Linked DNA regions of Homo sapiens. The protein of the gene in region 1 binds, or shares a complex with, the protein of each later gene. Links are inferred from orthologs where the notes say so. Each region holds a gene or a part of one and is shown in the gene's direction. Other genes may lie near its edges. The genes, in order: ATP2A1 and SLN.

What was found.
Region 2: the proteins of ATP2A1 (region 1) and SLN are in contact, whole or in part, in a crystal structure (PDB 3W5A), measured with the Oryctolagus cuniculus proteins. The link is inferred for Homo sapiens from one-to-one orthologs. Residues at the interface, in XP_069919846.1 of Oryctolagus cuniculus: Phe88, Val89, Leu96, Ala100, Ile103, Val104, Trp107, Arg110, Asn111, Asn114, Arg324, Lys328, Trp794, Leu797, Gly801, Leu802, Thr805, Ala806, Phe809, Trp932, Ser936, Leu939, Leu943, Leu946, Ile947, Val950, Pro952, Leu953, Ile956; in NP_001075856.1 of Oryctolagus cuniculus: Met1, Glu2, Arg3, Ser4, Thr5, Arg6, Glu7, Leu8, Leu10, Asn11, Phe12, Val14, Val15, Thr18, Val19, Leu21, Ile22, Trp23, Leu25, Val26, Tyr29.

The regions. Positions count from the first base shown.
Region 1 is NC_000016.10:28,872,424-28,888,067, forward strand, and holds the start of ATP2A1 (sarcoplasmic/endoplasmic reticulum calcium ATPase 1), read left to right. Parts: upstream 1-6,064; 5' UTR 6,065-6,248; coding exon 6,249-6,366; intron 6,367-6,533; exon of another isoform or gene 6,534-6,675; coding exon 6,676-6,693; intron 6,694-7,065; exon of another isoform or gene 7,066-7,077; coding exon 7,078-7,160; exon of another isoform or gene 7,161-7,498; intron 7,499-7,619; exon of another isoform or gene 7,620-7,671; intron 7,672-8,491; coding exon 8,492-8,596; intron 8,597-10,027; coding exon 10,028-10,166; intron 10,167-12,151; coding exon 12,152-12,232; intron 12,233-14,765; coding exon 14,766-14,851; intron 14,852-15,001; coding exon 15,002-15,299; intron 15,300-15,644. Other genes in the region: SH2B1 (SH2B adapter protein 1), read left to right, coding at 111-282, 1,024-1,397. UniProt on the Homo sapiens protein: Key regulator of striated muscle performance by acting as the major Ca(2+) ATPase responsible for the reuptake of cytosolic Ca(2+) into the sarcoplasmic reticulum.
Region 2 is NC_000011.10:107,705,825-107,721,438, reverse strand, and holds SLN (sarcolipin), read left to right. Parts: upstream 1-9,382; 5' UTR 9,383-9,476; intron 9,477-13,433; 5' UTR 13,434-13,508; coding exon 13,509-13,604; 3' UTR 13,605-14,061; downstream 14,062-15,614. UniProt on the Homo sapiens protein: Reversibly inhibits the activity of ATP2A1/SERCA1 and ATP2A2/SERCA2 in sarcoplasmic reticulum by decreasing the apparent affinity of the ATPase for Ca(2+). Also inhibits the activity of ATP2A3/SERCA3.

The DNA.
Region 1 (15,644 bases):
CTCTGTTCTGTGCATAGTTGGCAGTGGGGTGGGGGAGCACTGCCGGGGGAGGGGGTTTGTACCTGGCAGGGCCTTTGCCTCCTACCTCACCTCCCCCATCCCGCCCTCAGCACCTGCGTTTGTCGCTGAACGAGGAGGGTCAGTGCCGGGTCCAGCACCTGTGGTTCCAGTCCATTTTCGATATGCTCGAGCACTTCCGGGTGCACCCCATCCCTTTGGAGTCGGGAGGCTCCAGTGATGTTGTCCTTGTCAGCTATGTCCCATCCTCCCAGCGACAGCAGGGTGAGCAGAGCAGGTCTGCAGGGGAGGAGGTGCCCGTGCACCCAAGAAGTGAGGTGTGTGTGCCAGAAAGATGGGGCGGGGAGGGGGGACTATCACAAGGAGAAGCTTTGCTTGGGAGAGCAGGGTAGAGGAGGCTGTTGTGCCTCGGGGTTTGGAAGGGAAAGAAATGCGCTGATAGGACACAGGAAGGCAGAAGGCTCCTGGCCGGAGCCGGGGCGGCAGCTGAGAGGTGGGCGGGCGCATCCCCATTCCATCGGATCCTCTGTTCCATTGTCTGTCTGTCTCCTGGACCCATCCTGGCCTCGTCTTTGCCCTCCGTCGCAGCCTGGCCTTGGGCCTGCCCTTCCCGGGGACACTCGGTCTGATCCCCTTCCCTCCTCCCTCAATGTCTCATGTCCCTGTCTGATCTCTCCCTTTCCCCTGCCCCACCGTCCCATCTGTCCCCACGTTGCCCCTCCCCCCAGGCCGGGAGCAGGCTGGGAGCCATGCGGGGGTGTGCGAGGGAGATGGATGCCACCCCGATGCCTCCTGCACCCTCATGCCCTTCGGAGCGAGTGACTGTGTGTAAGTGTGGTCCTCCTCTCACCACCGCCCATGATCCATCTTCCATGGATGGGGGGTTGCTCAGGAGATGGGATGTGGGGAGACAGCCACGCTCCTGGGGGGCTGAGTGAAGGGGAGGCCACGGCAGGAGCTCACCTGCCTCCACAATCAGTCTGTTTTCTTACCATTCCTATCCAGAACCGACCACCTCCCATGACCCACCCCAGCCCCCTGAACCCCCTTCATGGACAGATCCCCCACAGCCTGGGGCAGAAGAGGCGTCGAGGGCGCCAGAAGTGGCGGCAGCAGCAGCCGCAGCAGCCAAAGAGAGGCAAGAGAAAGAGAAAGCGGGCGGTGGAGGGGTCCCGGAAGAGCTGGTCCCCGTGGTTGAGCTGGTCCCCGTGGTTGAATTGGAAGAGGCCATAGCCCCAGGCTCAGAGGCCCAGGGCGCTGGGTCTGGTGGGGACGCGGGGGTGCCCCCAATGGTGCAGCTGCAGCAGTCACCACTAGGGGGTGATGGAGAGGAAGGGGGCCACCCCAGGGCCATTAACAACCAGTACTCCTTCGTGTGAGCCAACCCCACCCGCTCCACCCTTTTTAAACCCCCCAGCCCTGCTCGTGAGATTGGGCTGGGTAGGGACAGAGGAGGCCGAAATCCCTCCCCCATGCTTCCTGACCCTTGTTGGCCAAGGGCATCTTTGATGGTACAAGCAGAGGCTCGGGAGAGGCTCCCGTCACACACTACAGGTCCCCTCCCCAGGGCAGGGGATTTGGGCTCCATGAGCTCCTTGAGGGGCTCTTCTGGTCAGCCCCACCCTGGGGGCCATTTCCCCATTAACTACCCCCAGCCCGAGGCAGGGTGAGGGGGAAGGGCTGTCAGTTACATTAAGGTGGTTGTTGTTGTTGTTTTAAACAAAATGGAGAAGCATAAATAAATAAAAAGGTTTATCTCGGTTCTATCGTGATGGCTATGGCCATTGTTTGCTGTGGGGACTGGGGACAGTTGGGTTGGGAAGGCAGCCCACTCAGTGCCCACAGGCCAGAGGGCTGGCCCAGGCCAGTCCCCATCATTCTGCAGTGCTGTGCTTTCGGAGCCATCCCTGTGTCTGACAGCCTTGTTCGTGGAGCACTAAATGATGCTCTTGGGGTCTCCTGCGAGTTTTTGTCATGGGACAGTGCTGTGAATGGCAGGCATGGTGATCTCCAGCGGCCCTTCCTGAGTTATGGCTTTGTACCCTAGAGAGAGCTGGCAGTGAGAGATGGGAGGCACGGTGGCTGTGCTGGAAGAGATTGAACGTGGCAGTCACAGGGTAGCCGCAGAGGGGCCCAATGGCCCCCTTCTCAAAGCCAGGCTGGAGGGATGGCAGAGGGCACTAGCTTCTGTCCTGGCCTTGCCACTCACTGGCCTGGGCAAGGTGTAGCCACGCCGGGCCTGAGCATCCTCATCTGTGACATGTGAAGTTTCATCTTGAGTCAGAGCTGCTGACATGGTTTGCTTGGCCTGGACATGGTGTCCATTTGAGTTTCACATTAAAAATTCAGATCACAGGCCAGGTGTGGTGGCTCACGCCTGTAATCCCAGCACTTTGGGAGGCCGACGTGGGTGGATCACCTGAGGTCAGGAGTTTGAGACCAGGCTGACCAATGTGGAGAAACCCCGTCTCTACTAAAAATACAAAAAATTAGCCGGGTGTGGTGGTGCGCGCCTGTAATACCAGCTACTCAGGAGGCTAAGGTAGGAGAATTGCTTGAGCCCAGGAGGTGGAGGTTGCTGTGAGCCAAGATCGCACCATTGCACTCCAACCTGGGCAACAGAGCGAGACTCTGTCTAAAAAAAAAAAAAAAAAAAAAAAAATCACTGGCTTCTCTTAAAAATCAGAAGATCCAGTGATGTGGGTCCACTTCCACATCTGCCCCATCCCCACCAGCTCACTTTGCTCCCTGGGAGGGCCTGGCCCTGTGGGCATTTGAGTTTATAACACCACCCCCATTGTGGCACACCCCTCCACCCCGTAAAACACAGGCTCTGCTCTTGGAATCAGTCTTCCTGATCTGTGGCTGTGCCCTCCAACAGAGGGCACCCCTGGGCTTCCCAGCTCTGGGGGTAGTGGGTGCCAACAAGGAGGGGCCTGGGGCTGAAGAATCCCACCCGCTGAGCTCGGCCTTCTCCCTTCCCCACTGTCCAGCTCCGCCTTTCAGCATCCTGCCTCACTCCCCGCCCAGGCAGCAAGGAGCCCACACCCTCATGCCCCTCAGCTTCAGCCCCCACCTCCAGGAGGCCCTACCCACGCTCATGACCTTGCTATTCTGGGCCTTGTGTCCTGTAGGGAGATGGACAGGAGACAGCTGGGCTTCCAGGCCACCCAGGCGGGGGGCTAGCCGAGGGAAGCCTGCTGGCTCTCCTGCTTGCTCTAATTTCTGGGGCTCCCCAAACCTTGGCCTCAGGAGACTGGGGATAGGACCGGCCTTGAAAGTGGGGGAAGCTTTGGAGAGCCGGGTGCTGGGTTCTTAGTGAGATGGCCAGTGAAGGCTGTGGTGCCCCGAGGTAAGCAGGGCCTGATCCCCTCCTAATCTTCCAGCAGCAACTGGTGCTCTGAGGCTCCCCCTCCCCCAGCCCTGCCAGCCTTCAGGGACCTGCCTTCCAAAGATGGGCAGGGGAGGGGGACGAGGACACCCACCCACTCCTCAGACCAGCATGTCTTGGCTGTTGGGGCCTGAGAGACTTTCCCTCTAAGCCTTTCTTTACAGATGGTTAAACCGAAGTTCTGCACTCATCAGGGACTGGCCAGGGTGTCTCTGTGTCCCATGCTTTTAGCTCCAGCCCTCAGGTGTGACAGGAGGATCACTTTCCATCCCTGGGCGTGGAGACCCCTGTGGGAAGGGATCCCCGAGGGCGCCTCTGGCTCAGCCTCCCTCCATGGCAGTTCACACCCACAGCCTTCCCTAGAGCAGCCCTTCTGCAGCTCCTGGCGGGTGGCTTTCCCTCCCTGGCTTGTTTCCCCCTCTGGGAAGCCGGGGGAGGTAGAAATGAATAACCTTAAAGGCCTGTTGGCAGGAATGTGCTGCCAAGCCTGCCCCCTGCCCTCTGTCTCAGGCTCTCGACTCCCTCGAAGCTGCCCATCTCTCCGTCTGCCCCTCTCCATGTTTGGGCATTCCCACTGCTGTAAGACAGTAGCCCCTGTCACTCCTCCAGGTGCCGGTGGGGAGACGCCGGCCAGCGCCAAAAGCCTTGGCGGGTGTGAGCCTGAGTCCAGCGGAGACGGTGGGTGCTGGGCCGGGTGGAGGTGCCGGGGGCTGTGTCTCTTGGAAGAGAGGCTGCTAATGCTCTCCTGCACCCCCAATTCAGCCCACTGTCCCCCACTCCCCTCAGGTCACAGCAGGATTCTGCTTCAGGGGAGGGGTTTGTTGGAACTGTGAAAAGGAGGCAGGAAGGAGCACCTTGTCCTCAACTCACCCAGGAGGCCGCGCCTCACCCAAGTCCAGGCAGAAGGGATGCATCTGGGAGGCTGAACCCTCAAGTTCCATCCACCCCTGCTGCCATCCCCCTCCCCAAAAGTGGGGGCCTCCCTTTTCTTTGCTCTGCTGTCTCCTATTCTGTCCTCTGCTTCGGAGTTTGAGCCCCAGAATGGAAAGCAGCCTTAAGAAGCCACACTTAGGAAGTCCACATGCCTCTGCTCATTTCAGGAAACAGGCCTAGACAGAGGACGGACTTGAGCCCAGGGCACCAGGCCCCTTCCCCTCACTGACCTTTCACCCTGACTCTCATCCAGCCTTTCTGCCTGCCTGTCCTCCCCTTCCTGCACCCCTGGTACCCTCCCTCGGCTCCTCCAGCAGCTGCCCTGGTGGTAACCAAGAGACGCCCCCATCCTGGAGCAGGGGTGGGGAGGGGCAGCTCAGAGCAGCTGCTTCTCTGAGGAAGCTGACACCAAGGCCAGCATTCAGCAACAACTTGTGGCTTTGCACCCAGCGCCGGGGTCCCCGCCCACCTGGCTCCCTGCTGTCCCTCTTCCCCACTGCTGCTCGGACTTCCCTCTGACCCTGGTGGCTCTGTGTCTCTGCTCCCTTTCCCCCTAGGTCTAGACATCTGTCCTTATTTCCCCCAGACCTGTCCCCAGAAGTCCACCCTTCCCCATTCCTTTGGTCTGGAGCCCCTGCTTGGTCCAGCTTCCCCAGGCCCCGACACCTTTCTGTGGGGTCTGCCTAGCTCCTGCACGCACACAGCATGGGCCTGATCCTGTTCCCCTCGTGGACAGATGCAGCAGGGCAGAGTGCAGCGCAGACCACAGGCCTCTGGGGCTGGCCACAGAAACCCCGTTGGTTAGAGCACAGTGTGGGATGAGGTGACCCTCAGTGCACGACTTGGGGTGACCCCTGCCCCCATCCTGAGACAGTTACCCCTCCCCCTCTGCCATCAGCACATTCTGTAGCCTCTTGGGTTACTTGGCTGCCTTGGTGTCCCATTTTCTTGGGGGTGGGGTGGGGATTCCCTATCCAGGATGGGGGGGCCCTCAGGGCTCTGTTCCCAGAGGCTGAGTTAGAGCGATGGGGAAGGGGGGGGGCAGTTTTGGGGAGAGACAGGCAGTGCTGGCTTTGCTCACCAGGGCCTGGACACTAAATCCCTTGTTGATGGCTGTGGCAACCCCTCCCTAGGGTAGGGTTACCATCTTCGGCCCTGTCCCCTTGACTCTCTCCCCTCACTTCCCCTTGTCCCTCTAGGAGCCACTCACTTCCTCTAGCCCCCAAAAGATGTTCTCCCTTCATCAGTCCCCCAAAGGCTTGGGGTATCTCTGCCACTGCTTCAGCAAATGGGGTGAGGAGGAAGGAGACTGCGGCAATGGAAACAGGCTCCGGGCAGATGAGGCAGGAAGGGGGGTGTGAGGAAAGGGACAGGTGAGGCCGGGGATGGAAGAGGGCTCCGGGAAGAACTGGGGGGATGAGTTTGGAATGGGAAATTCAATGCAGCTGGGGAAGTCGAGGCAATGGGGGGGCAGGGTCAGTAGCAGATGACAGAAAGTGAAGTCTCTCCCTACCCCACTTCCCTGGGGCTGGGGCTACCTTTGCGTCCCTCATGAGTGACATCTCAGGCTGCAGCCCCACTGTTCCCCCTCTGTCAGCAGAAATATCTCTCTTTTCTGACCACCTCCTGCTGGAGTCTCAGCCAGCCAATCCCTGATCTGGTGGAGGGGGGAGCCCGGCCTCCCCCTGCTCCCTCATAAGGACCAGCTGGGGGCCGGGGGGTGGCCGGCTGCTCAAGTGGGACGGGGGTCAGAGCTTTGTGGAGGGAAGAAAAACCTGGAGGGGGCAGGAGAGTAAAAAGAAGAAACCCAGGCAGACAGGCAGTTGGACACACTGAGGAAGACCCCCCACGAGTGGGAACCCCCTGGAAGGAACACACCGGCCCCGGCCCCCAGGAAGGGAGCACAATGGAGGCCGCTCATGCTAAAACCACGGAGGAATGTTTGGCCTATTTTGGGGTGAGTGAGACCACGGGCCTCACCCCGGACCAAGTTAAGCGGAATCTGGAGAAATACGGCCTCAATGGTAAGTGTCCCTTGGAAGAGCGGCTGGTAATTAATGCCCTCCTGCACCCCCAAAACACACGCACACGCATGCACGCGTTTCTCCCTTCAGGGTTTCTTAAGGAAGAGCTGGGCCGTTGTCCAATGCTCGCAGGGGGAAGAAGATACTGAGAAAACAGAGTCCCGAGATCCAGAGTTTTGGGAGGTTTTAATGGGATGAACTTGATGAACCTCAAGGTGGCCTGATTCTCTTAGCCACAAAGTCTTGGGTGTGGGGGGCATGAGGCTGAACCCCAAATGAATCTGTCCTTTTCTTCTTTTTCCTGGGTAGAGCTCCCTGCTGAGGAAGGTAAGTTACTGGAATCCCTGAACTCTCATAAATGACCACCCCCCACCCCGCCCTGTCCCACTCCCTCCTCCCTGCCTCTTTAGATTCTTTGAGCAAATATCCCTTCCCAAAAGGCAAATCTCCCTCCCTAAAGGTTAGAGTCCTGTCCGGGGCAGAAGTCTCCCAGGCGCTTTCTCCTTGAAGCAGCCAACCCTTGAACTGCCCCCCACTTTGCCGAGTCTGTTTCTGGACTCCAGGCGAGCTTCTTAGCCCTTCTCTGGGCACCAAGCTGTCTGCCCACCACCCTAGAGCCTCCCCACTGCAGGCCGGAGTCCAGGGCGCTCCATCCCAGACCTTCACCCACTAGACCTTAACCCGGGGCCCTCCCCTTGCCTCCTCCCCCAGGGAAGACCCTGTGGGAGCTGGTGATAGAGCAGTTTGAAGACCTCCTGGTGCGGATTCTCCTCCTGGCCGCATGCATTTCCTTCGTAAGTGTGGGAGGGTCTCTGGGGGCTGGCTGGGGGTGTGAGGCTGGGATCGGGCGAATGCGGGGCTCGCAGTCACTGGATCCTCCCGTCCGAGTCCCGAGCATCCCATTGTACAGACGGGGCGGGCTGGCGCGCAGCAGCGGGTGTGATTCGCGTCCTCCTCTCTCCTCCCCTGCACCCCAGAGGCAGGTTTTATTTTAAGCTTTAAGGGTGTTCTCAGCCAAAACACCGAAGCTAAGCCACCCTCGCGGCTTCAAGAGCTTGGAGAGCTCGGGTTACCCACCCGAACTCCGGGCTCCGGGTCCCGCCGCGATGCCGGCTGCGGCGCGGGGGGCCACTGCCACTCCCGGCATGCGCCGGGCGGACGGCCGCTCCACCAATCCCCGCGCCCGTCGGCGCCCCTGCCCCGCCCTCCCCAGCCTCCTGACGCTGATTGGTCGAGGGGAGGACTCGCTCCTAGTGGCGGGAAAGCGCGGCGGTGTGATGATGACTCCAAGGAGCCCGGCGCCCGGTCAGGGAGGGCACTGGCATCCCTCATTACCCGCCCAGCCTGGCCTTAGCCCTTCCCCGCGCTCCCTAGGCACCCCCACCCCCGCAGGGCATCTCCAGGGCTCTGCCTCCTCTCCCGCCCTGGGGGCTACTCCCCATCCCGCGGTCCATCTGCATGTCGCGGGTTCTTCCGCAGCATGTGAGCCTCGCTGGGGACTCTGGAGGCAACGAAAGCCTCCCTGTGCCTTGGTCTCCGAACGCAGGCCCCGTCGCGTTAAGCACAAGCTGGCAGGGCCTCTCCTCTCCCTTCTCAGATTTGCTCCTTGACATTTGCCTGCTGCCTGGCGGTGGCAACAGCTGGGGCGGGGCGCGCGCAGGAGGCCCCGTAACCCTATCCCCGCTCCGGCTCCCTCGTGAAACCGGAGCTTCCCTGCCTTGGCCGAGGGGGAGGGCTGCGGGGGCCAGACCGCCTGCGAAGACCACAGGGTTTTTCCTCTCGGGTTTTGGCTCCCGTGGGATGGATGTGGCTGTGCGGGGGGTTGGCCTGAGCTTCGCTTCTAAGCCAGCAGCTTGGTCAGGGAAACCTGAAAGCATTCCCAGCTAATCCCCCAAGTGGTGCAAGTCTGTGCGCGCCCATCCCGCTGAGTAAGGCGGTGGCAGGACCTGCAGTGGATGGACAGACCCTCAGACGGATGTGGGGCCACAGCGCCCCGACGGTGCCCGGCCCTCCTGCTGGCTCCTGCACTCTCCTGCACAGTTCTCCCCTTTGCAGTGGTCCACTTCCTTTCTCCATCTGTTTTGGGGCCTCATTACCTGTCATTCTCCTTTCCCCTGCTCCCCAGGTGCTGGCCTGGTTTGAGGAAGGTGAAGAGACCATCACTGCCTTTGTTGAACCCTTTGTCATCCTCTTGATCCTCATTGCCAATGCCATCGTGGGGGTTTGGCAGGTTAGCGTTGACCCTTCCTTACCCCTTCATGTCCCAACAGTGAAGAAGAGGCCAACCCTCCCTCCAGTCTCCTCCTCCTCCATCACCTCCCCCATACTTGCCTCTTCCTCTGGTCCTATCCCCTGGTCTGGAATGGGATGGAGTGTGGGGAAGAGGTGGGAGACTGTGACCCACTGTCACTTCCTGGCTATGTGACCCTGAGCAAGTTCCTTCATCCCTCTGAGCCTCAGTTTCTTCATCCATAAAATGGGGCTAGCAATCCAGTGTGAAATCGACTAAGATGATGCATGTTCCTGGCACACAGTAGGAATTCAATAGACGCTAGCTTGATTTCCTTCTTCCACTGACCTGACCACCCCCTACATGTCCTGTCCTCTGCTTCCTGGTTTGTTTTGTTTTGTTTTGTTTTTAGGTCATTTCCAAAGTGAAAACCCAAATGCTACCTTGCTTTGGTTTTAAGAAATGTCAGGCTATAAGCCATTTTTTGGTGCTCACTGGTTTCTGAACACTGAGGATAGAAATAGCCACTTTCATACTTTGGGAGGCCGAGGCGGGTGGATCAGTTGAGGTCAGGAGTTCAAGAGTAGCCTGGCCAACATGGTAAAACCCCATCTCTACTAAAAATACAAAAAAATTAGCTGGGCATGGTGGCAGGTGCCTGTAATCCCAGCTACTCAGGAGGCTGAGGCAGGAGAATCACTTGAATGGGGAGGCGGAGGTTGCAGTGAGCCAAGATTGCACAATTGCACTCCAGCATGGGCAACAGAGTGAGACCCAGTCTCAAAAAAAAAAAAAAGAGAGAAATAGCACTTTCTCTTTGCCCCAGTGTTACAGGCGCAGCAGAGCCACCTGTGTCTGTGGTGCTGACAGGTCCAGGACAGCATCTGCAGGGCAGCCTCTGATTTTCTTTGATTTTTTATTTAGATTTTTCTTTTTGAGACAGGGTCTCGTTCTCTTGCCCAGGCTGGAGTGCAGTGGCGTAATCTCATCTCACTGCAATCTCTGCCTCCAGGTTCTGGTGATTCTCGTGCCTCAGCCTCCCAAGTAGCTGGGATTACAGGCGCGTGCTACTACGCCCGGCTTTTTTTTTTTTTTTTTTTTTTTTTTGTACTTTTCGTAGAGACGGACGGGGTTTCACCATGTTGTCCAGGCTGGTCTCGAACTCCTGACTTCAAGTGATCCGCCTGCCTCAGCCTCCCAGAGTGCTGGGATTACAGGCGTGAGTCACCATGCCCGGCCTGATTTTCTTTGATTCTTCTTTGTTCCCTCCCCAAAACCCTCTCACCTGTTTTCACCTGTAGGTGACAGTTTCCTCAACATACACACACCCCTGCCTGTGTGGGGTTTTGTTGCCTCCCCCGTGCCAGGAGCCACAACTCCATAACTCTGCCTCCTGTGTATAACCCTGCCTCCTCCACCCTGTCTCCTCAGGAGCGGAACGCAGAGAACGCCATCGAGGCCCTGAAGGAGTATGAGCCAGAGATGGGGAAGGTCTACCGGGCTGACCGCAAGTCAGTGCAAAGGATCAAGGCTCGGGACATCGTCCCTGGGGACATCGTGGAGGTGGCTGGTGAGTGACAGGGACGGCTGGTCCAGGATGGGAGGCCTTGGGGCTGAGGCCTAGGAGATGCCGGGGGCTGGTCAGGCTCGGATCCAGGTGTCCAGGAGGATGACGGAGTCTGCTTCTCTTTCCGACTCCTCAGAAGGTCATCCCAGGCCACTCCGGCCACATCCCCCCCTCCCCAGCGGAGTCTCAGCAGGAACAGCCAGTCCTGTCCCTGAGGCTGCAGGCAGACCCCCTGCTCCCCATCCTCTCACCCTGCACTTGCACTCGCAGGCAACAGGTGGAACCCGGTCCCTGCCAATGGCCCCGTCTCCACCCCCTCCCGGGCCTGGCTTCCCCCTCCTTCCACCCACCCCAAGCTTGGTCAGCTTTCAGTCTTGACCTCTCTGTGCCCTTGAGGCCTCTCAAAGGGGAAGGAGCGAGGGCAGAAGGGAGGAGGGAGGCCGAAGGCTCGAGCCCCCGACCATGTAAGGGAAACTCAGGCCTGGCACAGAGCACGCGACCGGGGAGGAGGGAGCTCAAGGAGGGCCCCGCCCGCGGCAAGGGACACTTAATGCCTGGCCAGGGAGGGGTGGGGGCCGGGTGGCTAAGATTACTGGGATTCTGCCCCCTTCAGCGGTTTTTATGTTTGCCCTGAGCAGGCCTTCCCGAAGCTCCAGGCCCCTGCCAGGGGGAATGGCTCTTCAGAGGCCTCCTTCCCTGTAGCAGACATCCGAATCACCACCCCAGGGAGCTTGGGCAGAGGGAGTGAGGGCAGGCTGAAGACCCCAGCGCCCCATCACAGGGCAGCCTTGCCGCCGTGACAGCATGGAGTCAGCGCCATGAATGTCTATAAATATCACGCGGGCTTGGGTGACAGGGTGTCCCGCCCGACTCTATCCCGACCTCCCTCCTCCCTCCTCGGTCCATTTCCTCTGGCACAGGAGGGATCCTTAGAAACAGAGGGAAAGGAAAGCGATTGGACCCTGTCCCCAGTACCATCCGTGGGACCAGTGCGGAATTAGGCAGCGGCCCTGGGAGATTCTTAGCCTCCTCCTAAGGTCTCTGAGTCTGGCTGGGCATCCACCTCTCCAGCCCCCCGACAAGGTGGTTTCCATGGCCTGCCAGCCCACCTGTGCGTCTCCCTGGCCTCACCTCCACCCATTCACTCTCCAGCCTGTGCTGCCCGCCCCACTCTTCCACACCTGTTTCCTGCCCAACCCCCGCTTCTCTCCTGTCCCATCCCATCCTGTCTTGTCCATGTCCCCAGCTCACTCTCCCTGGCTCCCCGCCTCCCTGCCTCCCTGAGATGCTCAGACCGGGCTGTCAGGTTCCCGATATGTGGTCCTCTCCATGACCACCCTGTGCCCCCCGCTGCCTTGAGTCCTGCCCACTCATACCTTCCGCTCACTCCTCTCCTGCCTTGCCCTCCACTGTTCCTCTTGGTTGCCCTCGATTTTCTCAATTTCCATATTTTCCCGTTTCTCCTTGCCTTCCCTGGCTGTCCACTTCATTCTCTCACCCCGACACCCCTTCTCTCTAATGCACCCTGTTTTCCCTGAGTTCTTTCCTTGCCTTTCCTCCTTGCCTTTCTCACTCCTGTCTCCCAATCTCAATTATAGCTTCTTGTCCTACAGCTGGACTGTCCCTAATTTCCCCTCCAGTCATTCAGTGGGCATTTATTGAGCATGTACTATGTGCTGAGCAGTACACCTGCCCATCCCTTCTCAGGGCTCACAGCCAGTGGGAAGAGATGTGGGAGTTCAAGACCAGCCTGAGCAACAGAGCGAGACTCCATCTCGCCGTGGACACGGGGGCAGAAGGGATGGGTGTCACGATGAGGGGTTGCCAGCTTCAGGAGCTCAAGCCAAGGGCCTGATGCAAGCCCTGGGAGCCTCCCTGAGACCTGAAGGATGGATGAGGAGAACGAGTCAGACACAGATTGGGTTTTTCTTTGGAAGGAAGAAAATTCCATTCCCAAGTGACCTCCCTCTTCCCTACTCTCTCCACAGTGGGGGACAAAGTCCCTGCAGACATCCGAATCCTCGCCATCAAATCCACCACGCTGCGGGTTGACCAGTCCATCCTGACAGGTCTGCTGGCCTGGGTGGGAAGATGCATGGGGGTGGGACGTGGGGAGGAAGAGGCAACAAGGGGGAGGTGAGTGGAAAGACAGAGAACCCTCACTGTCTGAGCAACATAAAGAGACCCTGTCTCTACAAAAAAATTTTAAAAACTAGCTGAGCATGTTGTTGAGTGCCTGTAGTCCTGACTACTCAGGATGCTGAGGCAGGAGGATCGCCTGGGTACAGGAGGTCAAGGCAGCAGTGAGCTGTGATCACACCACTGCACTCCATCCTGGGCCACCCTGTCTCTGTCAAAATAAAAACAAAAGGCTGTGCGAGGTGGCTCATGCCTGTAATCCCAGCACTTTGGGAGGCCGAGGTGGGTGGATCACCTGAGGTCAGGAGTTAGAGACCAGCCTGGCCAACATGGTGAAACCCCATCTCTACCAAAAAATACAAAAAACACAAAAATTAGCCAGGCGTGGTGGCAGGCACCTGTAGTCCCAGCTACTCAGGAGGCTGATACAGTAGAACTGCATGAACCCAGGAGGCTGAGGCTGCAGTGAGCCAAGATCATGTCACTGCACTCCAGCATGGGCAACAAGAGCAAGACCCCATCTCAAAAAAAAAAAAAAAAGACAAAACAAAACAAAACCCAGCACTGGGGCCTCCCCCTGGCTCGCTAGTAGTGGCTGTGGCAGTGGCAGCACTGCTTGACATTTTCTTTTTTTTTTGAGATGGAGTCTTGCTCTGTCACCCAGGCTGGAATGCAGTGGCGCGATTTCAGCTCACTGCAACCTCTGCCTCCTGGCTTCAAGCAATTCCCTGCTTCAGCCTCCAGAGTAGCTGGGATTACAGACGTCCACCATCACACCCGGCTAATTTTTGTATTTTTAGTAGAGACAGGGTTTTACCGTCTTGGCCAGGCTGGTCTTGAACTCCTGACCTCGTGATCCACCCACCTCAGCCTCCCAAAGTGCTGGGATTACAGGTGTGAGCCACCCACTGCACCTGACCTGCTTGACGTTTCCATTCTGTCCCAAGCCTGAAACGGGACGGGTAGTGGGAGAAGGCTGGATGTTGTTGCCTACTCTCTAGATAGCCACCAGCCCACCCCTTCCACATGGACATAGGGCCACAGACACCTCGAGAACTGTCCTGTCTCCTTCAGCCTCCTCAAAAATCCTCCAGGGAGGAGCCATGAGATTCTAGGACAAGATAGGGGGTTCAGATACACTGAAAACCATGGCTGCTAGGCTGGGCGTGGTGGCTCATACCTGTAATCCCAGTGCTTTGGGAGGCTGAGGCAGGAGAATTACTTGAGGTCAGGAGTTTCAGACCAGCCTCGGCAACACAGCGAGACCCCATCTCTATAAAAAAAAAATTTTTTTAACTAGCTGGGTGTGGTGGTGTGCACCTGTAGTCCCAGCTACTTGGGAGGCTGAGGTGGGAGGATTGCCTAAGCCCAGAAGCTTGAGGCCACAGTGAGCTATGATTACCACGGCAGTCCAGCATGGACAACAGAGCAAGACCCCATCTCTATAAAATTTTTTTAAAAATTAGCTGGGCATTGTACTGCACACCTGTAGTCCCAGTTGTTTGGGAGGCTGAGGTGGGAGGATCACTTGAACCCAAGAGTTTGAGGCTGCAATGAGCTATGATCACACCACTGCGTTCCAGCCTGGGCAACAGAGCAAGACCCTGTCTCTGTAAAACCACCATAGCTGCTTCTGTTTCCGCACTGGCAGGGAGAAGCGAAGAAGAGGCAGAAAACATTCCCCATGGTCCCAGGGGGCAAGGGCTAGGCTGGCCCAGGCTTGCTGCTGAGCCCCTGCTCTTAGGGTGAGGGAGGCATGGTCGTAAGTGTAGGTCCCCCTTCCTCCCAGAAACATGCTTGACAGTTAAAAGTGTGGCTCCAAATATGTCCACTTATTTGATTTTCACCCAAGACATTGTTTTGCAGTGTACATGTCCTTGTCCCCATTTTACAGAGGAGCACATGGAAGTTAGGTGATCAAACACAGCTTGTTAGTGGTCAAGCTGGGGCTTGGGTCGAGGTCTTTTTAAGAGCCGTGGACTTCTGGCTGGGCACGGTGGCCTGTAATCCCAGCACTTTGGGAGGCTGAGGTGGGCGGATCACTTGAGGTCAGGAGTTCGAGACCAGCCTGGCCAACATGGTGAGACCCCGTCTCTACTAAAAATACAAAAAAAAAAAAAAAATTAGCCAGGTGTGACAGCATGTGCCTGTAATCCCAGCTACTTGGGAGGCTGAGGCAGGAGTATTGCCTGAACCCGGGAGGTTGCAGTGAGCTGAGATCTTGACACTGCACTCTAGCCTGGGTGACAAGACTGCAACTCTGTCTCAAAAAAAAAAAAAAAAAAAGGAGCAATGGACTTCCTAGCTGCCTTCAGTGGCTTCTTCCAGAGTCCAGACATCCCCCAGGATGGCTACTTGGTCCTTACCAGGAGCTGTCCTGCTGAGCAGGGAGAGAGTTAGGCACGGGAAGCCTGGGAGAAGGACATGATGTCATCCGAAAACCCCTTGGCCCCTTCTCCACAGGCGAGTCTGTATCTGTCATCAAACACACGGAGCCCGTTCCTGACCCCCGAGCTGTCAACCAGGACAAGAAGAACATGCTTTTCTCGGTGAGCAATCCGGGACCAGCCATCACACACTCAGTCAAGCCAGGTGCCCGGGTTGGAGAGAAACATGGCGTGTGAGAAGAGATGGCGTGGGGAGATGCGGCATGAGGGTCACCTCTTGCCTGATTCCCTGCCTCCTCTTTCCCTTCCCAGGGCACCAACATTGCAGCCGGCAAGGCCTTGGGCATCGTGGCCACCACTGGTGTGGGCACCGAGATTGGGAAGATCCGAGACCAAATGGCTGCCACAGAACAGGACAAGACCCCCTTGCAGCAGAAGCTGGATGAGTTTGGGGAGCAGCTCTCCAAGGTCATCTCCCTCATCTGTGTGGCTGTCTGGCTTATCAACATTGGCCACTTCAACGACCCCGTCCATGGGGGCTCCTGGTTCCGCGGGGCCATCTACTACTTTAAGATTGCCGTGGCCTTGGCTGTGGCTGCCATCCCCGAAGGTATGAAAGCCTTTCTTTTCTCCTCCCATTTGCTAATCCCATCTGCAAAGACCCCTTTTCTTTTCTTTTCTTTTCTTTTTTTCTTTTTTGTTTTTTGAGATGGAGTCTTGCTCTGTCACCCAGGCTGGAGTGCAGTGGCGTGATCTCGGCTCACTGCAAGCTCCGCCTCGCGGGTTCACGCCATTCTCCTGCCTCAGCCTCCCTAGCAGCTGGGACTACAGGTGCACGCCGCCATGCCTGGCTAATTTTTTTATATTTTTAGTAGATACGGGGTTTCACCGTGTTAGCCAGGATGGTCTCGATCTCCTGACCTCCTGATCTGCCCGCCTTGGCCTCCCAAAGTGC
Region 2 (15,614 bases), on another chromosome or scaffold:
GTCCATAGAGGAAGTGGCAGGGATGAATGTCTGGTGTATGTGTTGGTTCTCAGCCGGTGTGGTAGGACTAAAGGGTTGACTGTAAATGCCTGATGAATGCTGTCAACATCTAATTAAAAAAGGAATAGAATAGGAGGAAGGGAAGAAAGTGTTTGCTGATTGGATTTTTCTTTTCTTTTCTTTTTCTTTTTTTTTTTGGAGATGGAGTTTCACTCTTTTTGCCCAGGCTGGAGTGCAATGGCATGATCTCAGCTCACTGCAACCTCTGCCTCCCAGGTTCAAGCGATTCTCCTGCCTCAGCCTGCCAAGTAGCTGGGATTACAGGTGTCCACCACAACGCCCAGCTAATTTCTTGTATTTTTAGTAGGGACAAGGTTTCACCATGTTGGCCAGGCTGGTCTCGAGCTACTGACGTCAGATGATCCACCTGCCTTGGCCTCCCAAAGTGCTGGGATTACAGGCATGAGCCACCGTGCCCAGCCCTTGACTTTTTTTTTTTTTTTTTTAAGAGATAGGGTTTTGCTATGTTGCTCAGGCTGGCCTTGAACTCCTGGGCTCAAGAGACCCTCCTGCCTCAGCCTTCGGAATAGCTGAGATTACAGGCACACACCATCGTGTCTGACTTGATTGGACTTTTGTTGTACAAGAGGTATACCCCCGTGATGACACAGATATAGTGGTGGCCTGAGGGATGTGTATATTTGGTTTTCTGTTCTACACTGCCAAATGGGGTAAGAACCAGTGAAATGCAAGCTACATACAGTAGCCCTGAACCACTTCTCCAAGATAAGCTGCCCAAATTCCGAGAACACTAGCCCCTGGCAACTCCACATTCTCTCTCACTGTAAAAGTGTAAAAGGTTAGGTTACTCCCCAGCCTGTCGAACATGTGCCTGATTGCCTTCTGAGATAGCACATCCCTAATCCAAAAGAAAACCTAGCCTGGAGCTTGCATCCAGCTAATCTTCTTCCACATTGCTCCAAACAGGGAGTTCAGTTTTCTCATTACTCATACAGAGAGCAGAGATAGATTTTCATGATTCTTCAGGACTCTGTTCTCTCTGCTTTAATAGCCAAAAGCTAAAGCCAAATGAACTTCTTCACAGAGAACAACAAGCAATTTTATCTAATCCTTATTATTCTTGCTGTAACTGCAATTGTGTTATTCTGACTGACAGATTCCCAGAAGAGATTCAGTGAAAATACCCTTGATCAGATTCACAAAGGAACAGCATATTTCAAGTGGGCGTGTCTGGCTAGAATCTCCCTGGACAGTTCAGTAACAGCACATCAACAGACTGCTGAATTCTTATTTCCCCGTCCAAAAAATAACAAAGCCAATCTGAAATCTGGAAGTGTTCTGAGGGCAGATGGTATTAGCCCAGTAGTAAACATATTTTTGGCTGCTTCTTTTCTTTTTTCCCCCTGGTAACTATGTTTAATGTGCTGAGAGAAAGCCATTTGTTTACAGAATCTTATTATAGAACAGAAATATACTTGTTCCAGAGAAGAGGAGTTTAATTGGTTCCAAGTCAAATGATGCTAACAGGCGTCACCTCACCAATCCAGGACTTAAGATGGGTTATTATAAATAGGAGTAACACATATTTTTTTTGGCTCTTTTTCCCACCTGTTATGCAAGACTGCATACCACTATGATGTTCCTCCTGATTATTTCCAGCAACTTTGGGGGTGGCTCACGTGTGCTCATGAACAAGTACTGTCAGGTATCACATACGGTCTGTCATTTTCTTGCTCTTGAGCTCTGGCACTTCTCTGCTGCTGTCTGCTGCTGAGGCCTGCAGAGATTAATATAAACGGCAGGTAAGTGATTATTGGACAGTCTTGCTGCTTCTGCCAGGCTCCGTGACACTTCTATTGAAGGACATTACACCACTGGTTCCGTGGATATGCTGAGGTCTGCGACATGACACTTTCAGGGAGAAACTCTCTCTCCCTTTCAGTGCTACATGCTGTTGAGGTTAATTGTTAAAGAGTAAAGAGTTATGGAGTTTTTGCCCATAGCCCTCTCCCCTACCAGGCCAGGCTCTAGGGAAGTAGAATGGGCAGAATGTGAGTGTGAAAGCTATGAGAATGCGCCTCTCAGAACTGACTGCACCATAATGGGGGTGGGACCAGCTGCTGTGCTCTGAAATCACAATCACGTTTACACAGAGGCCGGCTTCCCACAGGCTGCTCCCAGTAGATGACTGAGCATGAGAGGAACACTAGGGCTGACTTATCCCTGGGAGACACAGGGCACCTGTAACAGGAGATTTTGACTTGAGGTTTCCTGATGGCCCTGTCAGACTTTCCCTAGCATTGCAGTCTAAGATGCTGCCATCCAGTCTTCTTGTCCCCTGGCCCTCTCTCCTCTTGGGGTCAGACCTGGATTGCTATTTGATGACTAGCTCAGTTTCCCCACTTCCTTCTATTTTCTCTCAGAGTCATTCCCCCTAATATGCTTTACTTTTGCACACTTAGTGTCATCTTGGCATCTGCTTCTCATGGGACTGAACTAACACAGGGAATGTGTGTTCCCTGGTATGGAAGCATTGTCTGTTCTCCCTGTTGCTGACCCTTGTGTATCTTTTTTTTTTTTTTGGGACGAGTCTCGCTCTGTTGCCCAGGCTGGAGTGCAGTGGCACCACCTTGGCTCACTGCAACCTCTGCCTCCTGGGTTCAAGCGATTCTCCTGCCTCAGCCTCTCAAGTAGCTGGGACCACAGGTGTGCACCATCACGCCTGGCTGATTTTTTTTTTTTTTGTATTTTTAGTAGAGTTGGGGTTTCACCATACTGACCAGGCTGGTCTTGAACTGCTGACCTTAGATGATCTGCCTGCCTTGGCCTCCCAAAGTGCCAGGATTACAGGTGTGAGCCACCACACCTGGCCCTATGTGTATCTTCTTGGTTCACTTCCCTTCAGAGGAGTTTCTCCTGGGAGGCTTTGAGGTCCATGTATGAGTAGCTTTGATGTTGACCTTGACTTCCCCACTGACTTTTACCATGCTCAGACATACCTGGACATCAGCAGGGATGTGAAGTGATGGAGGCTCAACCTCCATCACTCAAAATGCATCATTCAAAATGCATCAATGCTATGCATTTTGGAGCATCTACTCTGCTTCTTCACTGGTTCAGGGCACAGTTAGAGAAACAAAAGAAATACAAGCAATTGTGACTTTGAAGTTTAAATTCAGTTAGTGAGACAAAAATCACAGTTGTCACAAGTGGGTAATGACAGAGGTAATAATCATTTATATTTTCAACAAGGATTTATTGTTCACCTTCCAGTATTCAATGTATAACCAAAAGCTAAATTTTATGGCATTCTTTTTTAGGTGCCATAGAGTATTGCAGAGGTCTCCAAATGGGGGAAAAGTAGTCTCCTGATGGGGAAAAACAAACAAAGTAGACTTTTACTTTCTCTTGCTTTGTGCCTCATATTTTATTTATTTATTTATCTATTTATTTTTTAGATGGAGTCTTGCTCTGTCCCCCTGGCTGGAGTGCAGTGGTGCAGTCTTGGTTCACTGCAACCTCCGCCTCCCGGGTTCAAGCAATTCTCGTGCCTCAGCCTCCTGAGTAGCTGGGATCACAGGCACCTGCCACTATGCCCAGCTAATTTTTGTATTTTGAGTAGAGATGGGGTTTCGCCATGTTGGCCAGACTGGTCTCAAACTCTTGATCTCAAGTGATCCACCCGCCTCAGCCTCCCAAAGTGCTGGGATTACCGGTCTGAGCCACTGCACCTGGCCTCATATTTTAAAATGTTTATTAGTGTGCTGTAAAATATGCACAATAAATTAGTATAGTAGCACCTGCATATAATCTATTAAAAATACATACATTTTCTGTCAGTGATCATGGTAAAATTTTTTATCAATAAAGTGCACAGTCAAAAGGAGGTGGAGGCTCCTGGGCTAGAGGATGCTTTCATAGTTGTCCTGAATGCACTATCGTGTAGTGGTTAGAGCTCAGGGCTGGGTCCAAAAGCTTTAAATCTCAGTTCTGTCACTTAGGCACTCTTCGACTTATCAAGGCACAGCCTCTCTGGGCCCGAGTTTTCTCCTCCATGGGATAGGAATGTTGTACCCACCTCACAGGATTGTTGAAGGAATTAAATAAGGTGATTCATGTTTAGTAAGTGCTACTTGACATTGTTGTGGTTATTATTATTATTTTAGCCCTAAGTAGCTTTTTTTCTCTTTTTGAGGCTCAACTCAAGTCTTCTAGTTGATCATTTATGAGTCTGCTTCATCTTCAGTACCACTCTCTATGCTTTGTAAGAAGTTGCTCTGCTCTCTTTTAATCTCACCCAGGTACTCCTATCATCTTTCCTGACGTCATTCTGATGCCACCTCTCTCACACTGTCTTGTATTCTAATTTTTTTTGTCCCTTTCTTTTTATTTTTTTGAGATGGAGTGTTGCTATGTCACCCAGGCTGGAGTTCAGTGGTGCAATCTCAGCTCACTGAAACCTCTGCCTCCCAGGTTCAAGCAATTCTCCTGCCTCAGCCTCCCCAGTAGCTGGGACTACTGGCACATGCCACCACACCCGGCTAATTTTTGTTTTAGTAGAGATGGGGTTTCATCATGTTGGGCAGGCTGGTCTTGAACTCCTGACCTTAAGTGTTCCACCCGCCTTGGCCTCTCAAAGTGCTGGGATTACAGGCGTGAGACACTGCGGCCAGCTGCCCCTTTTTAAAAAAAAAATTCAAATTTTATTGTAAATTGACAATTGGTGGTTGTAGATATTTATAGGCTACCAAATGTGGAATAATTAAATCAAGCTAATTGACATATCCATTACATCAAATACTTATCATTTTTCATGGTGAGAACAATGGAATTTACTGTTAGCGGTTTTGAAATGTACAATACACCGTTATTAACTATATTCACCATCCTGTGCAATAGGCCTAAAATATATTTGTTCTTCCTGAGACCTTGTATCCTTTGACCATCATCTCCCCATTCACCCCATTCCCCAGCCTCTGTAACCACCATTCTACTCTGCTTCTATGAGTTTGATTGTTTCAGATTCCGCATATAAGTAAGAACATGCAGTATTTGTCGTGTCTGGCTTATTTCCCTTAGCATCATGTTCTCCAATATTTTCCTTCTTTTTTAAGGCTGAATAGTATTCCATTGTGTATATAGATGACATTTTCTTTATCCATTCATCTGTTGATGGACTGCAAATAGTGTCTACTTTTCTTAATCTTCTTCTTTTGGGGGGCAGTAGCCCTACTCTGTGTCATTATTATTTCTTGTGTGACTAGAACAATGCTGTGTATTTAGTAGTGTTCACTTGATACCAGTTGAACAATTGCAGAAGTAATGGCAAAGGTGATGACTTGGCCTTCTGATGTACATCCCCTCGGCTCTGTAGTGGCAGTACCTGGGCAGCATCTGAGAGACACACAGGTGGCAGGAGAGAGACAGAGTCAAGGAGGCCAAGCTTTCTTCAACTCCATGCCCTCCATTCACTGCCTGGGCTCAAGTCAGTCCTTATATTAGTGCATGTTTCACAGGATTTTTACACGAAGTGACACTCAGCCCATTCTCCTTTGGTCATAAATGAAAAGAGAAGCTTTGTACTTGTCCAAGAGAAAGGAGTTCCTCCTTGTCATTTATTTATTTACTTTTAATGATTAGGATTGAAAAAAACCTCAAACAACTAGCATGGTTTAACTTATGACCAGGCAGGCTCTATGCTTGGCTTTACACACATCGGTGTAGTACCAAATCTTAGTGATGGAAAGGAACAAGTTGATTTTACGTACATTATCAATTGGATCTTGATCACAGATCTTTGAGGGTTATTAGTATTCCCATATTATAGATGGGGACACTGAGGCCCAGAAAGGATAGATGATCATTTTTTTAATGTTACTCAGTAAGTGGAAAATTTAGAATACGAACACAGGCCTTTGTCACTTCAAGGTCCATTTGCTTTCCACTTTCCCGCAGATGGCTTGGGCTAAAGTGTTTGAATTAGCAGTATTGTGTCGACCTGCCAGTGGCCACTTAAGTTTCTTCATGACTTTTACATGGGCTTTCCCCGTGGCCAGAAAGGCAGGGCTTATTTGATGACTGTGGCAATAGTGACGTGGAGAAAACTTCAAGAAGTAGGGTTTTCATTTCTCTCTGGGCATGCGCTCACTCATGTGTTTGGGAAAGTGAGGGAGAATAGCAGAAAGCTGTTGCTCTCTTTCTCCCAGCTCCATGACCAGCTGGATGTGAAGATGGCAAAGTGAGAAGGCCACTGAGACGATCATGCTCGATACTGTGAAGTGCTGAGAGCTTATCACCTTCATCAAGGCCTTGGTGACTTCTCTCATCATGTTGCAGACTTGCAGAATTCTAGGACTGACATAGGTCTTCACTTTTCAGTTCTCAGGGTAAAAAGGCGGGTGGACGAGGGGAGTACATGAAACGAGCTAGTTTAGCAACCGATCAGGCACAAGAGCTCAGCACTGATTCTCAAAGGATGTCATTTTCACACCTGAGAATGTATATGGTGATGGTGGTGGGGAGATACCAATTAGAGATTCAGTGCCAGCGTCAATGTGAATGTTGTTTTCTTAACATTTTTGGCCGTTGGCTAAGTTCTAGATTAGTAGGCAGAGAAATAATTTCAAAGTTTATTTAGAATGTCGTCCTGCCAATGGGCAGAGAAGTACCTTGAAAGAAAGTTGATATGAAATGAATGCTGCTAAGTCATGGCAATTGCTCTCAGGAAGGAAAGTATTAGCAGAGTTAAGTAACGTTAATTGCAAAGGATGAATTTGCTTTGGTACTAAGGTCTGAAATGTTGGAATTCTCAACTTCTTAAATGAGAAAAAATAATGTTGATTTTGTAAAATAATGTTGAGTTTATTTTTATTTTATTTTGGCTCCTTGCAGGAAACAAGATTTTTTTTTTTTTTTTAAGCAAACCTGCAGATCCTGAGGGTTAAACCCTCCTTATGCCTTTGAGTAGTTGTCAGGTGATTTGGGGCGGCTTGCATGTGTTTCTGGAGAGGGTAAAGCTAAACTAGTGATAACTACATTCCAAGTGTAATCCCAATCTCTTGACATTACAGAAGAAACCACTAATTTTCAGAAGCGTCTGAAGTCTGGGAATTTGTCAATGCACTGGGCACAGTAGTCCTTGGTGCAGCTTAGACATGCTTAAATGAGGCAAACCAGACTAACCCATCAATTCGGTCAAATAAGAAGTAGAATTTTTCTTCTAAGTTACTTTGAAATTGACCAATTCAACAAAATGACAACATTGGAGAGCTCTTTTGGTGATACGTTAACATTTCGCTATTGTATTTAACATTTTAAATATTGTAGAGCTAATTCATAATCTGAGATGTACAAAATAAATGCTTATCCCATAAACCTAATATCAACACATGATATACTACAAATAATTTGATTCCAAATGAATTAAGAAAAAAGGTTTTCAAGTTTCAGATTCTTTTACCAAAAATATCCTGGGAATTTGAGATTGTGCCTATGCAGCCTCAAACGGATGAATAAAAAGTAATGTAGGCCGGGCACCCGGTGGCTCACACCTATAATCCTAGCACTTTGGGAGGCTGAGGCGGTTGGATCACCTGAGGTCAGAAGCTCAAGGCCAGCCTGGCCAACATGGTGAAGCCCCATCTCTACTAAAAATACAAAAATTAGCCAGGCATAGTGGTGCATGCCTGTAATCCCAGCTACCCAGGAGGCTGAGGCAGGAGAATCGCTCGAACCCGGGAGGCGGAGGTTGCAGTGAGCTGAGATCACGCCACTGCACTCCAGCCTGGGTGACAAGAGCAAAACTCCATCTCAAAAGAAAAAAAAAGTAAAGTAAAGTTTTGTTTTTTTCCCCTTTGGGTGGTGAGATTAAAAGTAATTTAAAAGTTTTAAATACTTTAATATATTTTCACATGTCCTACAATAAATATATAACTTTTTTAATTTGACAAAAAATAATTTTGAGTGGTTACAAAAAGGGACAGGTGTGGCTTGGTAACTAGAAAAACATTCCCAGCCTGGGAAACAATCTAGTGAGAGCTTGGAGGCAGAAGACAGAACTCTGATTACATTCAAGGAGTTTGCCAGATGGCAACAGATAACTGCCAATGTTCGGTTGCACTATAATTATTATACACTCTCTGTCACTTCAGCAAGCGCTCTTTTCACAAGACAAGTGGTGACAGAATGTTGTATTAAGATTACCCGTTGCTAAGCTTATGTTAAAATGAGGAAATGAAATGGAAAGTCTTGTTTTGGTAATGTCTCTGGGGTATGAGGAATGGAGGGAAAGGTTTGACTATGAGCATAACTGCATAGAGAATTTTGTTTGTTTATGCCTTTTGGGAATGCATTATTTTGATTGACCCTAATTGGGAATTCAGAGGGGGAGATTTCCTCTATTATCTATAAAGAAAGGATCTGCTGAGCAAACACAATTGCTAGGGTCATGTTTAAAGTACTTAATTGATCTGCTTTCAAGTCTAATTTAACACTTCAGGGGCTCCAAACATGTGATACATTGGTTACAAACTCATCTTAGTCTAATTTTAGTTAGTGTTCATATTAGAAAGTTATATAATACTTTTCTTTCTTTCAGATATATTCTATAATTCACATTTTTCACTAATTTTACCCAGTTCTCCTTCCACTCCCAATCTATCCAAATAACTGAGTTGAACTGTGTGAGTTTACTGCTCTATTAATTTATTGCCAGAGATATACAAACCATGACTTCCTCGGCTGTTTCAGATGAAACTGTAGATCCACGTGTAAACTTGCAATGCACAGCTTAGCTGGAAAGTTACGTGGAGCAGGTGACGGAGGGGATAGCTTTCACTGCTTGGACTAAAGTCAGTTTTGAAAGAGCTAAAGATGCCTATTGAATTCTGGAGTGTGTGTGTGTGTGTATGGGTGTGCATATGTGTGGGTGTAAGGCAGCAAACTCTTCACATTTCAAATAACTAAAGATATGGGTGGTAAAATGAAGTCACATTTTTACACCTCACAGGCTGACTAGGGAGAGCAGTCAAATGCAGCATCGATTGGTTAAAATTAGTCTATCATTCTTGGTTTATGATGTTTTAAAGACATGTTAAAGTTATTCATGAAGATGTAAAAGACACATTTAAAACCCACATCAATTGCACTAAAAGTCAACTGGAAACAGAAGGTTTTTAAATCCTGGTGGTGGCAAATTGGCAGCCAAAGGAACAAAGTCTTAGTCAACATATTTCCATGTCCCCCGAACACAAATAGCCTCGAACCTTCGGAGGGTGTTCCTTTGAGATGTTTCATCAGTGACATCACAGTGATTGCCAGCTTCCACGGACTACTTTAGGCGCTGCCCAGAGTCCAGGAGTCCAGACAGCCTGGGAGGGGAGAAGGAGTTGGAGCTCAAGTTGGAGACAGCGAGGAGAAACCTGCCATAGCCAGGGTGTGTCTTTGATCCTCTTCAGGTAACTGCAGGATTTTTATGCTTAGCATACGGTGTGTGTGTGTGTACAAGCTGCAAATGAGAAAGGCAGAGGAATGTTTGCATTTCTTAATGAAATAGGCAATGCCCCTTGGATACAGCATGCCTTAAGATATAAAGTGAGTACTATTGCTTTCTGTTTTCCTTTTTTTTTCTCCTAAGGGTATGCATTTTCTCCCTTCCTAGTAAAAAAAAATTTTTTTTCTTTCTTGTATTATGGAAGATGGTCTTTTTTCTATCTTCTCTAAGTCTCCATTCAAAGAAAGCCAATGTCAAACTTCCTGCACAATTTATTCAGAGCTTTTTGGGTTTTAGTTCATCCATTTGCAATCACTGGATCATATGGCATGACCTTGACTTCAGGGAATGTTTAAAATGAAACCCAAAGTGTCTTTATTGGTTAAAAGCAGAAAAATGGAACTTGGCTGATCTGAATTTCTGCCTAACTGGTTCATTCTTCCTAAAGTGTATAAATGTGTGTGAAAGGAATGTTCACACCACACCTTACAGTTAGCATATGTGTTGATTGAATTGAATTCACTAGAAATTCTCACCTTAACTCTTCATGTTTTATTCATCTAAAATCACATAAAACAACAAATATTCAAGGTCACCATTAAAGTGCAAGAAGTAGTAAGAGGTAAATCCCAAGAAAGAAAGAAGTGTGATGGGTAGCCTGCTAATTCAGAAATGACTGAAAAAAAAAAAGTTAAGAGTGCATAAACATACACAGTTTAAACAATAACTGAAAGGCAACACTTCTATAATTATCATCCAGGTCAAGAAACAGATCATTGCCAGCACCCAGAAGCCCATTCTTGATCAACCCCCATTCTGCCCCAAGATGTTGGGATCCTCTTGTCCCTGTTATTCTTTATAATTTGACCATCTATGTCTGCATGCCTAAACAATATGATTAACCTCCCTATTTTTGACATCATATAAATGGAGTCATATTCTCTGTTTCTTTTGTAAATTCTTCTTTCACCCAACAATTATATTTGTGAGATCTACCCATTTTCTGTGTAGCTATAGTTCATATATTTTCTTTGCTTTATGAAATTCAAATGTATAACTATACCACAATTTATCATCCATTCTGCTGTTGATAAACATTTGAGTTGTTTCCAGTTTGGAGTTATTGTGATAATATTGCTGTGAACTCTTTATTTATGTAACCTGGCACGCACGTCCTTGACTGTCTTAAGGTAGAAGTGAAATGCCAGATATTAGAGAATGAACATTTTCAACATTAATTCTAAGAAAGCTAAATTGTTTTCCAAAGTGGTTGAAAATTTATGCTAACTTTGTTTAGCCAGGCCAGTTAATTGCAGTGACAATTCACTTGTGTCATAACTCCTAGGAATTCTAGTAACTAGTTCCAGTCTGCTAATTCTAGCTTTGCCTCTAACTTGTTATCTGTCATTACACAAACATCTTAATCTCCTCTCTCTAAAAGTCAGTTTCTCAGCTGTAATCTTGAGAAAGATAAAAACTGCAGTAACACTTGCCTGAGTTGTTGCGAAGGTAACACAAACAGAGCTGTGGAACAGCTTTCAATAGTATTTTTCTCATTTTCTGAGTATATCCTGTTGGATCACTATCCATGATTCCCATGACTTAACAGCTTAATTTAATAGGCAGATTTGGTGGGACCGTTGTTTTGCTCTCCTTGAATTGTTTTGACCATTATAAGCCAGGCTTCATATTTTCTGCTTATCTCTGCATTTCTTGAGAACTTACCCAAATAGATGGACATTTGGACTATGGTTTTATTTCATTGATAAGTTTATAAGAAAGAGTCTGTCTTCGTTTCTCATTCCTTTGCCTCCAGGCACCTTGGCAAGACTCATTACCGTTCTGTTCTCCTCTGCTCTTTTGTACATTCTCATAAATCCTTTTTCCTTGATCCATTCATTTTATTCTGTTTACTTTCTCCTCCATGCAAATCTTTGTAAAGATTTTCTATTTTTTCCCCTTTTTATTTTCTTGGAGAGACAGGGTCTTGCTGTGTTATCCAGGCTGGTCTTGAACTCCTAGGCTCAAGTGATCCTCCCACTCCAGCCTCCCAAAGGGCTGGGATTAGAGGCATGAGCCACCACGCCCAGCCATTTGTAATGGTTTTCATTGGCAATTTACTATTTCCTTCATGCTGAGGTCTAAAAGATGGATAATAATTAAAAGGGAGATGAAATATAAATCTGTCATCATTTGGCTATATATCTACTGGTTGGCACCATCTGATTTGAACTTGTATTTTTTTTTGAGACAGGGTCTCATTATGTTGCCTAAGCTGGTCTTAAACTCCTAGGCTCAAGGGATCCTCCCACCTCAGCTTCCCAATTAGCTAGGACTACAGGTACCGACTGCCATGCCTGGCTGAACCTGTATGTTATGCCAATTACACAATATGAAAAATGATCATTCAGTTGGCATTTATGCAATTAACAATTTGGTCCATTGATAATATAATCAATACAGTAATTACAATTAATAATTCAGTCATGCTAGATAGTTTAAAAATACCACTCAGACCAAAAGCTTGCTAACAACCCTTTCAGCCTCTTGAACTCTCACCTTTAGCAAACACACAAAATACCCTTTCTCCCTAAACTTTCACTCTACAGTAGACTTTGGTCCTAAATGTCTAAAACATAGATATCGAATTATCTAAAATATATAAATCTTTAATTTCATTTAGGCTGCATAAATAATGTGCAATTTACACCATCTCACTGAAGACAATAGTTTGATGACTTCATTGCACATGTTCTCAAAGTATGATTTCCTGTATGGACAATCTGTACATACTATGAAGATACCATCCCTGCTCTTTGAAATGTTTACAATCTAGGCACATCCTGGACCTGACTAAAAATAGCTGGCACAAGCCCTTGTTGAAACCGAAGTACCCATGAAGTTAACACTTGCTCTTTCGGCTGAATGCCTGTTATGCCAGGGGCTTTTGGTTGATCCCAGTAGGCTATGTGCCCAATGCAGGACTTGTCAGAGGCCATGCAGCTGTTGAAAGTACTTTCTGCTTTCCGTAGAGTTAGATGAAGACCTACAGCAGCCTGAGGCCTGAAAGATTATGGCATCCCACTTATCTATGTAATTCAAAGCAAGAACAATACTAAACCATAAAATTTTTTTGTTTTGGTACCCCTGCTTATTGATACTCTTAAGAAAAGTATACACATGCATACGCACACACGCAAACACACACAGAAGTTGGAGAAAGAAAAATGTAATATTTCACATTTTATGAAAAGCACCAATACGATCATCACAGGAAAAAAGTCAGGACAAAAATGGTGGTCTTTATGACATCAGGCAGAGAAATCAGGCTCTCTCTCTGTAATCATTAGGGCTCTTCAGAGAAACATAACTAATAGAATGTGTTGTGTTGAGGGGATTGGTGTCTGTTTTTAAGGAATTGGCTTGTGCGATTGCAGAGACTGGCAAGTCCAAAATCTGCAGGGTGGGCTGGTAGGCTGGAGACTTAGGGAAGTCTCCAGTCCAAAGACTGTCAGGAGGCTACATGTCCCAGATCAAGGTGTTGGCACAGTTGGTTTCTTCTGAGTCCTTTCTTTGGCTTGTAAATGCCCATCTTCTCCTTGTGTTTTCACATGGTCTTCCCCTCTGCATGTGTCTGTGTCCTAATCTCTTCTGATAAAGACACTAGTCATATTGGATTAGGGCCCTCCTTAATTACCTAATTTTAACTTATTTACCTCTTAAAAGACCCTATCTTCAAACACAGTCACATTCTGAGATACTGTGAGCTAGGGCTTTGACATGTAGATTTTTGGGGGACACAATTTAGCCCATCACACTCTCCTTTTCCACAACACTTCTGTTTCCTTTGAGGAAAGAACGAGCATTGTTATACAGGAATGCCCATTAATCTCCTTGTGTTTTCTTTGTTATGTTTTATCAGGAGGTGAGGAGAAGCCAGAGGTCCTTGGTGTGCCCTCAGAAATCTGCCTGCAGTTCTCACCAAGCCGCTGTGAAAATGGGGATAAACACCCGGGAGCTGTTTCTCAACTTCACTATTGTCTTGATTACGGTTATTCTTATGTGGCTCCTTGTGAGGTCCTATCAGTACTGAGAGGCCATGCCATGGTCCTGGGATTGACTGAGATGCTCCGGAGCTGCCTGCTCTATGCCCTGAGACCCCACTGCTGTCATTGTCACAGGATGCCATTCTCCATCCGAGGGCACCTGTGACCTGCACTCACAATATCTGCTATGCTGTAGTGCTAGGATTGATTATGTGTTCTCCAAAGATGCTGCTCCCAAGGGCTGCCAAGTGTTTGCCAGGGAACGGTAGATTTATTCCCCAACTCTTAACTGAAAATGTGTTAGACAAGCCACAAAGTTAAAATTAAACTGGATTCATGATGATGTAGGATTGTTACAAGCCCCTGATCTGTCTCACCACACATCCCTTCAACCCACACGGTCTGCAACCAAACTCTAATTCAACCTGCCAGAAGGAATGTTAGAGGAAGTCTTTGTCAGCCCTTATAGCTATCATGTGAATAAAGTTAAGTCAACTTCAAAAACAACTTCTAGAACTTATTTTAGCTTCCATGTGTGACAGAGCATTTGACCCTTGGCTGGGATTGGAGTGACAAGTGCTACCGTATTTCTAGCATTTGAGGTAAGCCAAGATGCTCCAACTGCTGAAGATTTGAAACCAAGTCAACACACTGTGTCATATTTCAAGTAATTCCATTGGTTCAGCGCTCCTCAAACTTTTCCCCTAAACTAGTCTGAAGGGCAGAGGGAGAATAAATCCATTCCACTACGGGGTCTGAAGCACAGGCTGAATTGCTGGCTAAAAGTGCAACATTTCTTTGAAGTCTTGTGTTTTATCTTTAGAATCCACAAGAAATGTATTTTCTATCTTATAATATCTTCATGTTTGTTTTCATATAAATATTTAAAATTATTTACACTAAGTAACACAAGAACATGAGTCATGTCCCTAAGAGTAGCATAGTCTATTTTGATTATTGTTATTACACAAATGGAGCTAGTCTTTAATCAACTACAGTTCTAAAAGGAGGAAAATAGAAAATGCAAACTTATATGTTTATAAAAGACATATAAAATAGATGTTTCTTAAACGTGTTGCCTGAACACCCCATGTTAGACAGAACAAATTTGCTATTTGTGCTGAGGTAACCATGGAGAAAGGGAATGTTGTTAAACCTCATCTTACATAGCCGCCTTCATGAAGGCATTTCTTGCCAAGAATTTGACCTGTCATTGAGGCATTGACTACATCACATTATAGTTCTTAACCTTTGGCTGCATTCAAAGAAAGTCAATTATCCCAGGGGTGATTTTTCAAAATACTGAGGCTGGGTCCTTCTCAGACCAATTAAATAAAAATCCCAGGGGATAGAGCCCAAGTATCTATCTTTTTAAAATATCTTCTAGATGATTACACTGTGTAGCCAGAATTGAGAATCACTGATACCAACCCTTGCTTCTCAAAATTTGATGTGATTGTGAATTACTGGGAAGTCTCATTTAAACGCAGATTCTAATTCCATTCTAATTCTGATTCAGTCTGGGGTGGGGCCTGAGAGCCTACATTTTGGACAAGCTCCTAAGTGATGCCAGTGCTGCCCTTCCAGACTGCTACCCTTGGATTAACATATTAGAATCACTTGGGGGGACCCTTAGCAAAACCACGCAAGCTTGAGCCCCATTCCTAGCCATTTCTAATTTATTCGGCCTTGGGTGAACCTGAATGTTATTCTTTTTTTCGAAGAAGTCCAGGTGACACTAATGTGCAGCCAGGATTAAGAATCCTCAAATAGCTAAAGAAAAAATGTTATATTTTGAGAGGTTCCTCTCCAAATTGGGAAATAGCAGCATATAGTCCTCAATGCGTTGTCCCTAACTTCAGTTAGACTACACATATGGATGTGCAACTGCTAATGATTTAGTAGGCAGCATATGTACTCACAGACTTGTGGCTCTAGGGCCCTCAGTAGACGGTTAGCCGTCTTTCCCCTATTTGCAGAAAACCTACTGTTTGTGTATGTGTTTGAGAAAGTGTGTGTGTGTGTGTGTGTGTGTGTGTGTGTGTGTGTGTTGGGGA